4 linked regions of the Homo sapiens genome follow. The protein of the gene in region 4 purifies or fractionates together with the protein of the main gene of each other region. This does not show direct contact. Each region holds a gene or a part of one and is shown on either strand. Other genes may lie near its edges.

Region 1 (3,500 bases), on a different chromosome or scaffold from region 4:
AGGCTGGGCAAAGAGTGGGTGCTTATCAATAACTGGAGAATGAATCAGTGAAAACACCTGGGAAGGTGCGGTCCTCTTCTTTTAGGAGGAAAACACTCGCAGAGCACCTCTGTGACCTAGGGACAGTGGTGACCTAGAGAGTCTTTTGCTGTCCTCCTGGGGTTTAACAGCCCGGTGGGGGAGAAAGATTCATCTCTAGACAGTGACTGTCCAGAACGGGGCAGGAATGCAGGAGCCCTGAGAGGCACCTGGTCCAGTCTAGGGTTCGGGGCAACTTCCTGGAGAAGGGGGCATTGAAGCTGAGACCTAAAACATAGCAAGTTGGTGGCACAAAGGAGGAAGTGAGAGAAGCAGCAGGTGCAGAAACAGAAGATTAGAGGCACAGTCTGATTCTGATGACTGTCCACTGTTCCCTGGGGCTGGAGCCAGGATGCAAGGAGGTGGCTATTGGGGACAACAACAGAAGGAGTCTTATGGCAGGTGCCAGATTCTTCAAGGCTGGGGCTTAGCTGAAAGAGCCTTCCCTGGGCAAACCATTCCTGAGGCCCCCTCTGTGGCCAACCCTGCCCTCCAAGGGCCCCTGGTCCAGCAGGTGGGACAGACACAGAAAAACACAACCAGACTATCAGCTGCTACCATAAGCCACGGCCACAAGACATGTCTGTGACAGCACACAGCACACTAATCCTGAGGCCAAAACTATGACCAGCTCCATCCGGCTGCTGAGCAAAGGGAGGCTCAGAGAGGTGAAGCCACTTGTCTGGTCACTCAGGAAGGACCGCAGAAGCAGAATGACAGAAGGGAAGGGGGGCAGGCAAGGGAGCCAGGCACGGCTTCCCAGAGGAGGACTCTTCACTCAGACACAGAAGGTCACAATCAGAGACTCTCTGAATGCCAGGTTTGGAAGGGGATGTTCTGCTCACCCTTCACGCACCCTGCTAGCTCCCCAGTCCTGTTCTCATTCACCCCTCCTCCCAGCTGTCCCCTCAGCCATCAGCCTTCAAGAGGCAGGACCAGGGCTATCACAGTCACAGTTAGCTCAAGAGCACCAGTGGCACAGAGCAAGGCTGTGATAAACACCTGTGTGGCCACCGCTGCCTGAAGGACTCACCCCGGACGCTCAGGTCACCCAAACCCACTTCCCTCTGAGGCTCCAGTGTCTGGCCCTCTCCTCCACAGCCCCTAGTCCACTCCTCTGCAATGTTTTCTCCATTCACCTTACCCACCAGATAGCAAATGTCCCAGGAGCATGGTTAGAGGGGCTACATGTGTTAAATGTGTCACTTGTCACCTCCTGTCCCCTTCACCAGCAAGAGCTCTTTCCTGTAATCTCCCAAAGCACAGGACACCATTGGAGGGGCTCCAGGGTCAAACAGACCTCAGCTATAGTCCTGGTCCCACCGTTCTTGGCTGTGACACCTTGGGCACATCACTTCACCTCTCTGACCTGTGGACCAGGTTGTGAAAATACTGGAACATTTTAGACAGAAATCTGGGCCCTGCTTACCCAGAGCTGGGGATCTAGAAGGAAACACACTAGAACGGTAAACAGGATAATTAAAAATGGTACATGGAAAACAAGCAGGGGGAAGTGACAGCAACTGAGTTGGGAACAGGGATCCACTTTGGAGTGGGTGGTCAGAGAGGCCTCCCTGAGGAGCTCCCTTTGACGTCTGGGTCGTCTGGGTGAGACCCTTAGGCTGAGACAGAGAAAGCCACATTCTGATGAGGAGATCTATGGGGCGGGGGTCGGCTGGGGAAGGGAAATCAGACAGGCACAAGGCCCCCTCCTCAAGGCCAGCCTAGCTATTGGGAAATTTAGGGGTCCAAGTATGGGTTTCAATGGGTCTGAGCTGATTTGGGGTCAGGAAAGGACACTTGATGCCAGGTCAGGATTTGAAGCTGCATCTGACTGACTCCCAGGTCTCTTCGCTTACCCGTTAGTGATGGGCAATCTGGCTGGGAACCTTCCCACGGAAAGGCAAGTTAAAACCACAATGAGGTGTCACTTCACACCTATTAGGATGGCTATCAGCAGAAAGACAATCACAAGTGCTGGCAGGGATGTGGAAAAACAGGAACCCTCGTATGCTGCTAGGGGGGAAAGTAAAAGTACAGCTACTTCGGAAAATATGGCAGTTATTGAACAAGTCATATGTGCACCTACTACACAATCCAGCAAACCCATCCTGAATGGCTACCCAGGAGGCAGAAAACATGAAGCCAGACCAGGCGCAGTGGCTCACGCCTATAATCCCAGAACTTCAGGAGGCCAAGGCAGGAAGACTGCTTGAGCCCAGGAGTTCAAGACCAGCCTGGGCAACACAGCAAGACCTCATCTCTATAAAAATACAAAAATTAGCCAGGTGTGGTAGTGCATGCCTGTGGTCCCAGCTACTCAGGAGGCTGAGACGGGAGGATCAATTGAGCCTTGGAGAATGAGGCTACAGTGAACCAGGATCACACCACTGCACTCCAGCCTAGGCGACAGAGCATGACTCTGTCTCAAAAACAAACAGTGGCCAGGTGTGGTGGCTCATGCCTATAATCCTAGCACTTTGGGAGGCCAAGGCAGGAGGATCCATTGAGCCCAGGAGTTCGAGACCAGCCTGAGCAACACAGGGAGACCCTGTCTCTCTTACTTAGAAAAAAAAAAAAAGAAACAAAATACAGCCACAGAAAAGCCTGTACATGAATGTTCATAGCAGCATTATTGGCAACAGACAAAAACTAAAAACAATCCAAATATCCTTCAAGGACTGAAAGAATAAACTGTGTCATGTCTGCAGACTACCACTGAGCAGTGAAAAGGAACAACTGTGAGCACGTACTTTAGGATTTCCCCAAAGGCCAAATTTCCCTGATCCTAGGTTGTAAAAAATAAAATAAAAATGAACAACTGCAGATCTATGTAACAACATGAACCTCAAACCCATTATGCCCAATGAAAGAAGCTGGACACAAAAGACTGGATGTTGTTTAGATCCTTGTTTAAGACATTTTTAGAAAATTACAGAGATAGCACCTCTGTGGCTGCCTAGGATTGGGAGCAGCAGAGACTGTAAAAGGGAACTTTTTGAGGGGACAGAAGCTTTCTCAGACCAGACTGTGGTGATGGCTGCACCACACAACTGCATAAATGGACCAGGAGCCAATGGACTCTATCCTAAGAACAGGTGAACGTTATACCATCTAAATTATACCACAAGGCTGGACGTGGTGGCTCACGCCTGAAATCCCAGCACTTTGGGAGGCCGAGGTGGGCAGATCACCTGAGGTCAGGAGTTCAAGACCAGCCTGGCCAACCTGGTGAAACCCTGTCTCTACTAAAAATACAAAAATTAGCTGGGTGTGGTGGCAGGTGCTTGTAATCCCAGCTACTTGAGAGGCTGAGGTAGAAGAATTGCCTGAACCCAGGAGACGGAGGTTGCAGTGAGCCGAGATTGTGGTGAGAAAGCGAGACTCCGTCTCAGAAAAAAGAAAAAAAAAAAAAGAGTCAC
Region 2 (3,500 bases), on a different chromosome or scaffold from region 4:
AGCTCAATTCATCAGGCAGAGCAACTGTATTCACTATGAGAGGTAAGAAGCTGACTTCTACTGATGGACACTGCAACATGCATCTGACTTCCCTGCTCCTATGAAGTTCTTCCTTCCAGGAAATATAAGTGGTAGATTCTTTGTACTGATGCTCTAAGATTCCAGCTGGCTGGATAAACAATTGACATCTGCAGAAAGAGGAAACAGTGACAATAAAGTTTTGATCCACAACTTAAAAAAAAGCATCTCATTAAATCTTCCTGACAACTCTACAAGATAGGTGCTATTATTCCTGTTTTTACAGATATACAGATGAGGAAACCAGGGCTAAAAAAAAGGTTAGGAAATTCACCCAAAATCACATAGCTAACTTACGGAGGACTTTCTGAAAAGAACAAACAAACAAAAAACAACTCTGTAAACAAGACAACTTAAAAAAATTTTCATTTCAAATACAAAGGCAATCTAATAAAAATAGTCAGAAAAATCCTGACATCAAATATACAGTCAGGAATTTTCACCTGATAAATTCAATGATAATATAAATGTATTTCTCAATGGAAGACTAAATTATGTCTTAAAACTGGCTTTTACTGATCTTTAGTTAATAAAAATATGAAGTTATTTGCCAGAATATAAATCCCCAACTCAATACATTTAAAGTTTAATACATTTAAGAAGTATCTACCTATATGAATCTAAAGGAACATGGAACTCCTCTTCAGGTCTGGCTATCCCAATGCGCTCCAATAGCTTAACATTCTTAACAAATTTATAGATGATAAATGCAATGGAGAAATGGTTTTTGATCTGTTGGACAAAAAAAAATACAAGTTTTTTAAAAGATATGTAAGTTCGAAAGAAAAAATGAGAGCCACAAACAAATACTTTTAGATCTAAAAAATTTCAAACTCAGTATTGGAAGATATTTTTATTGGCAATTGAAAAATTTTAGGGTATTTAAGTGCTATATATATTAAATTTAATGTTTAAGTGTCAGTTGAAAACTGAGATATTCAAATGCTCCATATATTATAAGCTTATGTTTAGTATTAGTCTATATTATCTTTCAAATATGTATTATTCTCTGAAGATTTAAGCCATTTTTTCTCCATGACAATCTTTTCTCAATGTATCATGTATAACAACTAAACAGAAATGGATAGCAAAAAATCATGAGAAAAATAGTACAATTCTTTTCTTGACATCAGTCTGTTACGCATTGGAGCAAATAACAAACTATAAGATAACAATGTCCAAAATTTGAAACCTTTTCATTTGTATCTGATGTTACAGGTAGGAAAAAAAATGTTCTTTTGTTGACCATATGCTGAAACCTGTAGTAATACACAGAAAAAGAAAAATGTTGGATAAAACCTTAAAAGTAGAAAAAATATTTACACAGATTAAGATGCTAAAATGTTTTTCAGAGGGATAGATCATTCCAATATGCCTTCATACATATCTTGAAAAATATAATCCAAGTGACATACAAAGAGAATGGAATGTTTCCTAACTACAATTACAATAATCCTCGGTTCTGAATATTTAAAGGAATATACCAAAAGAGCTTTATTAATTTTGCATTTGTCTTAAAAGACAGAAAACAAAAATGAGCTTTAAGTAAACAAAACTACAGACATTTAAAATAAATATTATCAGAGCAAGCTGGACAGTAAATAGAAGCCATTTCTGTTACTATTTATTTCTGAATAATTACTATTTATTTCTGAATAATCAGAATTGACCTGATGAAGTTTTACTGTATTCCTATATTCAGCTAAATGATTTAACCATTTCTTGGTACACTGAAAGGGATACAATTAACTTTGAAGTATTACCTGTAGAGGAGAGCGAAGGGTAATTACTTTATTCCCTTCAGTTGCATCAATTTGTACCAAGACAGAGTCAGAATGACTGGCATTGGGATTCCGTACATTATACAATCGCCGTCCAGGTCTGGCCACAGGGATATTTGCAACTTCTGTATATCCATGAGGTACTAAGGCAGTGCATAAGTGAAAAGAATTCCAAATATTAATTTGCCAATGTTTCTCTATAACAATCATTAGTACCTCAAAATAATGAAGAGTATTTTTCCTCATCACTAGAAATGATCACCACAAATTGCTTTTCTAAGACATAAACTTAAAAAGAAGACCAGTTACTGTTATAAAATTTTTGGCTGAAAACAGTTTTGCTTGGGGTTTTGAATATAAAAACAAAATCCAACTTATTTCTTATTCTCTCAATCATATAGCAACAATCTTTTTCTTTGTCACAGTGTCAACACTGTAAGACTTCTGAATATAGCTATTTTCTCTCCTCAGTAAACTCCTATCCTTTTAAAAACACATTATATATATAATATTTATATATATTATATAATATATACATTATTTAAGGGCACAAAAATAATCTAGTTTTGTAAAGTTTTCTTAAATCAATAAAGTTTAATTTTCTCAAGTTTAGAAAACAAGAAACAAGAGGTTAGCAATTATATGTTTCAAATGTTGTATCTCCAGATATCTGCAGCAAAATGTTTTTTCACATTTTATCAAAAATAAGCCCACACCAACAACTGCTAAGATACCCTTAAGGAAAACAAATATAGCCTACCAATGGTCAGAGTGAAGAAGGAGCTTTCTTGACGGCTCAATATAGATAGGTTCCCTTGACTTGAAGGTACCATGCTGGCATACTCCAGTTCCAAATTCTGGCCAGCATCAACATCAAAAATATCACTTTTCTCAGGGAAGCCCATTACTCTGAGATTACAATTGGGCTTCACCTTAATGGGAACACCTACAGCATTTTTTACCGTAAAAGGAGCTCTGTCCTTTAAAGAGTAGTCAAAAGTAGAAGCAGTGCCCTCTGAAAAACCCTGAAAAGGAACATATCATCACAGTAAAATTTTTGAAAAACATACATTCTTCCCAAAACCTATACCATAATTACACATTTTTTGGAAACTAATTTTGATGACAAAAAAATTATATGTTTCATTTTAAAATTCCACTTGAAATATTCTAAGCAAGATTCAGACATACTTTTGCTAAATTGTTGAAAACATTAAGACAACTTTTGGATATTGTTATATTCATTGTATTTCCTGAAGAAATATGAATTGCCATTTGTGGCTCAGGAATAAAATCATCTCCTGGCAGCAAACTTTTATCCTGAACTGGGTTCTTCTTTACCTATGAAGAAAAATAACACAGCAAATTTAAATTATTAGCCAGTTGATAATAAAATAAAAATGCTGGAGTTCAGTTCTCCTAAACTGATCACTTTATAGTAATGCTTCGCAAAAGTCTTATTTTCAAAAATATACCATGCTTCACTTTGATTTCATGGAGTTCAGCATTCATTCTTTCAGGGTATAGTCCAAGCATGGGGAAAAGTTTAGAATTACGCCATGAAATTACTCAAAGCCAGCTACAATATTTGTCTCTTATGCATTCCTCAGAGCATAGCTATTTATTCAGTGTCACCCAACT
Region 3 (2,891 bases), on a different chromosome or scaffold from region 4:
AGATTGAATTATGGCCAACTCTAATGGTCTTATTTTAACTTAATTGCTTCTTTAAATGGCCCTATCTGAGTTACTGGGGGTTAGGGCTTCAACACAGAAACACTGGAGGGACACAATCCAGCTCATAAGAGTTGGTACAGAATTTTAGGTTGGAAAAAATTTCCCCTCAGAATTTTGAGTATATTGCTCCACTATCTTCTAGTTTCCTCTGTGTCCTGCTAAGATGATGTCCCTTTTTTTGGGAGACAGGGACTTACTGTTACCCAGGCTGGAGTGCAGTGGTGTGATCTCAGCTCACAGCAGCCTCCACCTCCCAGGCTCAAGTGATGCTCCCAACTCAGCATTAAAGTAGCTGGGACTATAGGTGCGTGCCACCATGCTTGGCTAATTTTTAAAATTTTCTGTAGAGACAGGGTCTCCCTATATTGCCCAGGCTGGTCTCAAACTCCTGGGCTCAGATGATCTTCCCGCATCAGCCTCCCAAAGTGTTGGGATTACAGGTGTGAGCCATGGCGCTTGGCTGATGATGTCCTTAATGCATGGTGATACCTCTGTTCTCTCTCTAGAAGCTTTAGGATCTTTCTTTGCCTCAAAGTGGGGCTATTTTCATTCATTTTGCTGGAACTCAGTGAGCCCTTCAAATCTGCAAAATTGTGCCCATCTTTGGGGAAACTATTTCCCTGATGATTTCTGCTCCTTTGGTTTCTGTGGCTGTTCTTCCCACAAATCCTCTATTATTTAGATGCTGGAATGGAAAGCTTTCTGACTGTGGCCTTCACTTCAGAGATAGTAGTCTAGAGACCTACTGGAGTCGAGCCTCCAGCCTTCTGGGATGGGGGAGGGAGGGTAATGCAGCTCTAACTGCTTAGTAACAGAATTCTGTCTTTAGTCCCTCATTTCTAGAGGTGCCTTTTGAGAATTCCACAATCTACACAGAACTGCTTCTAGGCTTTCTATGGTCTACTAAGGTACCTGGGGCTTCCAAAGCCTTGTAGTTGCCTCCTCTTCCACTGTCTTTCTTACCTCATGACCTTTAGCCACAGCCTTAGTGGGGCTGCAGGATGGAATAGAGCTAAATATGTCTTCAATCCCATCTTTAAACATATACTTCTTAAATACATATTTATGGTCAAACAGGCCTGCTGTGCCCACTGGCCTCCCCTGCCTTCTGTAAATTTGCAACAGTCAGGTCACAGTCAGCCTGGGGGACGTCCCATGCTAAGGTCTTAGGTCGGAGTCAGGCACTGGCTTTTAGTGAGAAAGGCAGCCTGTAGCTGGTGAAGCCTGGATGGTGCCTGAAGGAGGAGCTGGAGGGTGAGGTCTGACTGGCCACTATGTTTGCTCCTCTGAGCCTGAAAGGTCCCAATGCCCAATGCTGTTTCAACTTGAACATTGAGCCCAGAAGTGGTTGTGAGTAGGACCAGGTGTGCAAACTTCACAGTGGTCTCTGTCCCCAACCACCCCAAGTGCTAGAGAAAAGAGTTCAGTAATTGGGATGGCTCCCATGTAGCAGCTGGTCCTGAATGGGTGGCTCAGTACATCTGCCCTCTGCCCTGATCCTGGATCCTCAAGGGTCCAATCCTTTGAGAAAAGGAACCAGGAGAGCGATGGGTCTGAAGCGCTGGTGTTGTAGAAATCCTCATCACAAAGAGGTGACTGCGTTCCAGTTGCTGCCAGGCCTGGCCATATTCCCACAAAGTGCCCATGTCTACAGGATGCTCAGCCCTTGCCTTCCTCTGTCCCGCCACCACCCTGCTCAGCTAGAAGGTGCTGCCTATATTTGAAGTTCAAGGTCTCTGTTGGAAGACGAAGCCCACCCAGGGCACACAGTTCTGTGATAACAGAGCCTGGAGTCGGCTCTAGAGCAAGACAGAGCTCCTGACCCCCATGCTGCAAGTCTTCTGTTTCATACACCCTACACCAGCTCTACAGAAAAAAACAGGACACCAGGGAGCAGAGGGACCCTAGGAAAGGGAAAACATGACAGACACCCTCATGTGGTTTGGCTGCGTCCCCACCCAAATCTCATCTTGAATTACCACGTGTTGTGGGAGGGACCAGGTGGGAGGTAACTGAGTCGGTGGGAGGTAACTGAGTCATGAGGGCGGGTCTTTTCCGTGCTGTTATCATGATAGTGAATAAGTCTCATGAGATCTGATGGTTTTATAAGTAGGTGTTTCCCTGCACCAGCTTTTTCTCTGCCTGCTACCATCCATGTAAGATGTGACTTGCCCCCTGCCATGATTGTGAGGCCTCCCCAGCCATGTGAACTGTAAGTCCATTAAACCTCTTTCTTTTGTAAATTGCCCAGTCTCGGGTACATCTTTACCAGCAGCTTGGAAACAGACTAATGCACACCCCTACTCAGAATGCCAAGAACTTCAGTCATCACTAGCAAATAAATCTCCTCATTACCAACCAAGGAAATACAAGGAAATACACTCACCTCTTCAACCTTTTTGACAAGGGGACGTGAATTTCTGATGAAAGTTATCTTACCAAGTTTAAATTCATAATTGGGAATTCCTCTGTAAGAAGAGACAGAGACAGAGAAATGTTATTTCCAGGAAAAAAGGACTAAAATTCATTTTTGACAGTCAAGAGGAACGCAGAAAAGATGCTGCTGCACCCCACCTGGGCCCTTTGGTGCTTCCTGGCATCCTCCCAGGAGGGAAGCAGAAAGTAACTGACTTCTTGGTTTGGTATCAATATTGGGTATAGGGCCAGGGGCTTTAGGCTCTGTACCTGTCTATGGAGAGGGGTCATCTGAAGGATTGGGAAGCCCTCACTGTCACTGTCCTGAGCTTCACAGAACCCCCTGAGGTGGCTAGACTCTCACTCCAGTATTCTGATTTCACACACACAACAGACAACTGACACACCTCAGCCCT
Region 4 (3,500 bases):
GCTCATTCATTTATGCATTCAACAAGCATTTATTAAACACAGCTAATGGGCCAGGTATGGGAAAGCAAAGATGAGTAGATCCTGACCCTTAAACAGTGCAGAATCTTGTGGAGTGTATGAGCGTATCAATAGATAATTGAAAAAGTTAGCAGAGTCCTGTTAGTTGTTATGGGAGTGTACAGGAAAGAATGAGAGGAGTGTGGAAAGTGTATTAAGGTGGCAAGGTCAGAGTCCTCAAGGTTAGAAGAAAAAGACATGTGAAGGTTACCTTTGACAAAATGGTTTTGTTTCATTGTTTTGTTTTTTGCAAAGATACTCTGGAACATAGGGCTGCAACGAATGTCATTTCCTGAGTATCTACAGTCACTCCACTTTATTTGAAGCACAGAGCAGGAGCCCAGGGATTTTATGCCAAGTTTTTTTGGGTCAGCTTTTCTCATGGGGGGCTGTGGGCCAGGCTGTCAGTGTGTGCAAAAGCATCTGGTAGAGGGCCCAGCATATGGAAGGCCCTTAATAAATGGAAGTTATCAGAAAAGAAAATAAAGTAAAACCATTTCATATTCATGACCACATTGTAAGATGCCATATGGGGTTACACTTTCCAAATCAAAATGGAAAGAATGTGATCTAATGAATGAAAGTGTAAGTTTAGAGACAACAGATTAGAATATTTTGGCATTATCTCAGAAAACCCATGACCCATTGTTGCCATTTATATGTTGACAGATTTTTATTTCTGTGCTTTTAAAGATTAGGGGTTAGGACAGCTGCATTATATTATGTTTTAGATCAGTATGGAATATTACAAAGTTTTCTCAATTCACTACTCTAAAAGGCAGTGCTTGTTTCCATGTGGTTACTGCAACTGATGACTGAATGCTTATCATGGCAGGAACTGCTAACTCTTTATGTACATTATCTCATTTAATCCTTATAATTACTCTGTGAGGCAAATACTATTATTACAGAGGTTAATTTGCCTGAGGCCCTATGGCTAGTAAGTAGTGAGCCAGGTTTCTAGCCCAGGTGTATTTGACACTAAAACCTATGCTTTTGATCATTGCTACCTTTCACTTTAGTGGTCAATTCATTTAGTTAAAAAGAAAAGAGTGTGTACCTTCGATATGGCAAGCATTGTGTTCAATGTTGAATATGAAGATGAAACAGATGCAATTTTAACCTTGACTCACAGTCCAGTTCATGTCTTCTGAGGTTTACTGAAGGGGAAAGAATATGCTCCTTGATCTCAGAAAGACCCACCAGCCAAAGTCCAGGGGTACTTTCATTGTGTCATTTATTCGTCTAACCAACAAAAATTATACAATATGGAGGATGAGACAGAGAAGTAAAAATAGTAACATGATAATGTAATGAGTTCCATAATAGAGATATGGAGGAGATGCCATGGGGATAAGAGAGAGAGAGTGATTTTCTCTTAGCTGATGGGGGAAGCCAGTTTCCAATTTTCTCATCCATAAAATAGAGTTGAAAATAACTCTTTGCCTGCTGACCTCATGAGTTCTGCATGAAACTAGAATCAAAGAATATTGTGTAAATGCTTTGGAAATTATACAGTATTATACTAATATTAGTTATTGTGGTTATTGCATAGGCCACTTACTGAATTTTATTTTCTTTGCTGTAGTACTCATGGAGCATGAGGGTCGTGATGTTGTCATTGCTTTGAAGACTAAACAGGCAATCCGGAATGTGATTGCTAAAGCTCTAAAAAATCTCACCTTCCTTTGTTCAAGAGGCATTATTGATAAGCATGAAGTCATTGAGATAAATAAGGTAATTTTGCTTGATTCTGTCCGCATAACACCCCAGCCTTCATGGTTACTTTAGCAGTGTGTAATAAGGAGGGAGATTGAAAAAATTGTTTAACCACAGGTGTTAACTCTATAATCACCTTCAGCCTTTGATAATGCAAAGGACAACGAATGCCGATGCAATCCGGTACACTCCATTTGTCAAAACTACTTGATTGCAAGTAACAGAAACCAACTTGAACTAAGTTTAGTAAAGAAATGGTTGGGGGATTTATCAAAAGGACGCAGAGTACTTTATAGAACCCACAATAGCCAGGATATGTGACAAGGCCTAAGGAAGGGATTTGAACAGCGATGTAGAAAGCTTTCTAGATTCTCCATTTCCTATCAGGGTTGCCCTCTATGGCATCTTCCTTTGGCTTTCCCTATAGACTCACTAGATTTTTCTGCTTCTCCATCCACTGTGTCAATTGAATTATGAAGATGATAGGTTCAATCTGAGTTAATAAGTCAGTGAAAATAGTAATAAGGGGAGACTAGGGACAAAAATGGTTAGAGGAATTTAGATAGGATGAGACAAGCTGTGAGTCAACAATCAAGGTTAAACTTGCCTAACAGTAGTTTATTTAGATTTCCTTAGTTTTTCCCTAGTGTCCATTTTCTGTTACAGGATCTGATCCCCATTATTTTGATTATTTGTTTTTAGGTACTTCTTAAAAAATTAAAAGCACTAAATAACTTTCCAAAGGCAATCCCACCCCCAACTCCTGACATATACCTTCACAACATCATTTGGCTGGAAGGTAAAGATGTTCTCATTGACTTCTTCAAGGTAAAGATTCCGTTTTCTATTCTGGCTCAGGTTTGATGGTAATTATCCATTTTTTTCCACTCCCTAATGAAAGATTAACAGAAAAGCATATCACATACTGGCCAATTCAGGGAAAGCCAAAATGGAGGCCCAGGAAAGCCTAGAGGAAGACTAGATCTCTTTTTGAGCCTAAAGGGCAAAGATAGTTTTTCACAATGGCTTATCCGCTTATGAGTAGCTATATGTGTCTGACTATTACCAATCCCATTCTATTTTATGTTGTAGAGTTCTGGACTTCTTGATGTACACTCTGGGAGAGACATTTTTTAGAGCAAGGGTCTCAAATTTAAGTTACTGCACAGACCGGGCAGATAGTGTAAAAGTAAAGCCAATTGGGCATAGTGTAATAGGGAACAGTGAGAACTGAGGTGTATTCAAGTTCATGCTCTGTCAGCTGACGGTTGCCACAGGACTTTGAATTCTTTCAACAAATATCTATTGAATATCCTCTACATGCCAGAGACTGTTCTAGGTTTTGGGATATGGCAGTAAACAAAACAGATGAAGTCCCTACTTTCATTTTTTAATTTTTATTTTATTCTTTTTATTTATTTTTTTGAGATAGAGTCTCACTCTGCCGCCCAGGCTGGAGTGCAGTGGTGTGATCTCGGCTCACTGCAACCTCCGCCTCCCGGGTTCAAGTGATCCTCCTGCCTCAGCCTCCCAAGTAGCTGGGATTACAGGCCTGTGCCACCATGCCCAGCTAATTTTTGTATTTTCAGTAGAGACGGGGTTTCATCATGTTGGCCAGGCTGGTCTCGAACTCCTTACTTCAAGTGATCCACCCGCCTTGGCCTCCCAAAGTGCTGGGATTACAGGTGTGAGCCACTGTGCCTGGCAGAAGTCCCTGCTTTCAA

Evidence for each region. The genes of interacting proteins can lie anywhere in the genome.
Region 1: the proteins of SLC9C2 (region 4) and CLPTM1 purify together in Homo sapiens (affinity purification with mass spectrometry; one large-scale study listed by BioGRID and IntAct). This does not show direct contact.
Region 2: the proteins of SLC9C2 (region 4) and VPS13C purify together in Homo sapiens (affinity purification with mass spectrometry; one large-scale study listed by BioGRID and IntAct). This does not show direct contact.
Region 3: the proteins of SLC9C2 (region 4) and UFD1 purify together in Homo sapiens (affinity purification with mass spectrometry; one large-scale study listed by BioGRID and IntAct). This does not show direct contact.

Annotation. Positions count from the first base shown.
Region 1 is NC_000019.10:44,958,380-44,961,879, reverse strand, and holds part of CLPTM1 (putative lipid scramblase CLPTM1), read right to left. Parts: intron 1-3,500. UniProt on the Homo sapiens protein: Involved in GABAergic but not glutamatergic transmission. Binds and traps GABAA receptors in the endoplasmic reticulum (ER).
Region 2 is NC_000015.10:61,917,448-61,920,947, forward strand, and holds part of VPS13C (intermembrane lipid transfer protein VPS13C), read right to left. Parts: intron 3,201-3,500; coding exon 3,051-3,200; intron 2,885-3,050; coding exon 2,620-2,884; intron 2,003-2,619; coding exon 1,842-2,002; intron 1,338-1,841; coding exon of another isoform or gene 1,275-1,337; exon of another isoform or gene 917-1,274; intron 811-916; coding exon 689-810; intron 189-688; coding exon 1-188. UniProt on the Homo sapiens protein: Mediates the transfer of lipids between membranes at organelle contact sites. Necessary for proper mitochondrial function and maintenance of mitochondrial transmembrane potential.
Region 3 is NC_000022.11:19,452,303-19,455,193, forward strand, and holds part of UFD1 (ubiquitin recognition factor in ER-associated degradation protein 1), read right to left. Parts: intron 2,529-2,891; coding exon 2,447-2,528; intron 1-2,446. UniProt on the Homo sapiens protein: Essential component of the ubiquitin-dependent proteolytic pathway which degrades ubiquitin fusion proteins.
Region 4 is NC_000001.11:173,523,073-173,526,572, reverse strand, and holds part of SLC9C2 (sodium/hydrogen exchanger 11), read left to right. Parts: intron 1-1,645; coding exon 1,646-1,794; intron 1,795-2,478; coding exon 2,479-2,604; intron 2,605-3,500. UniProt on the Homo sapiens protein: Involved in pH regulation.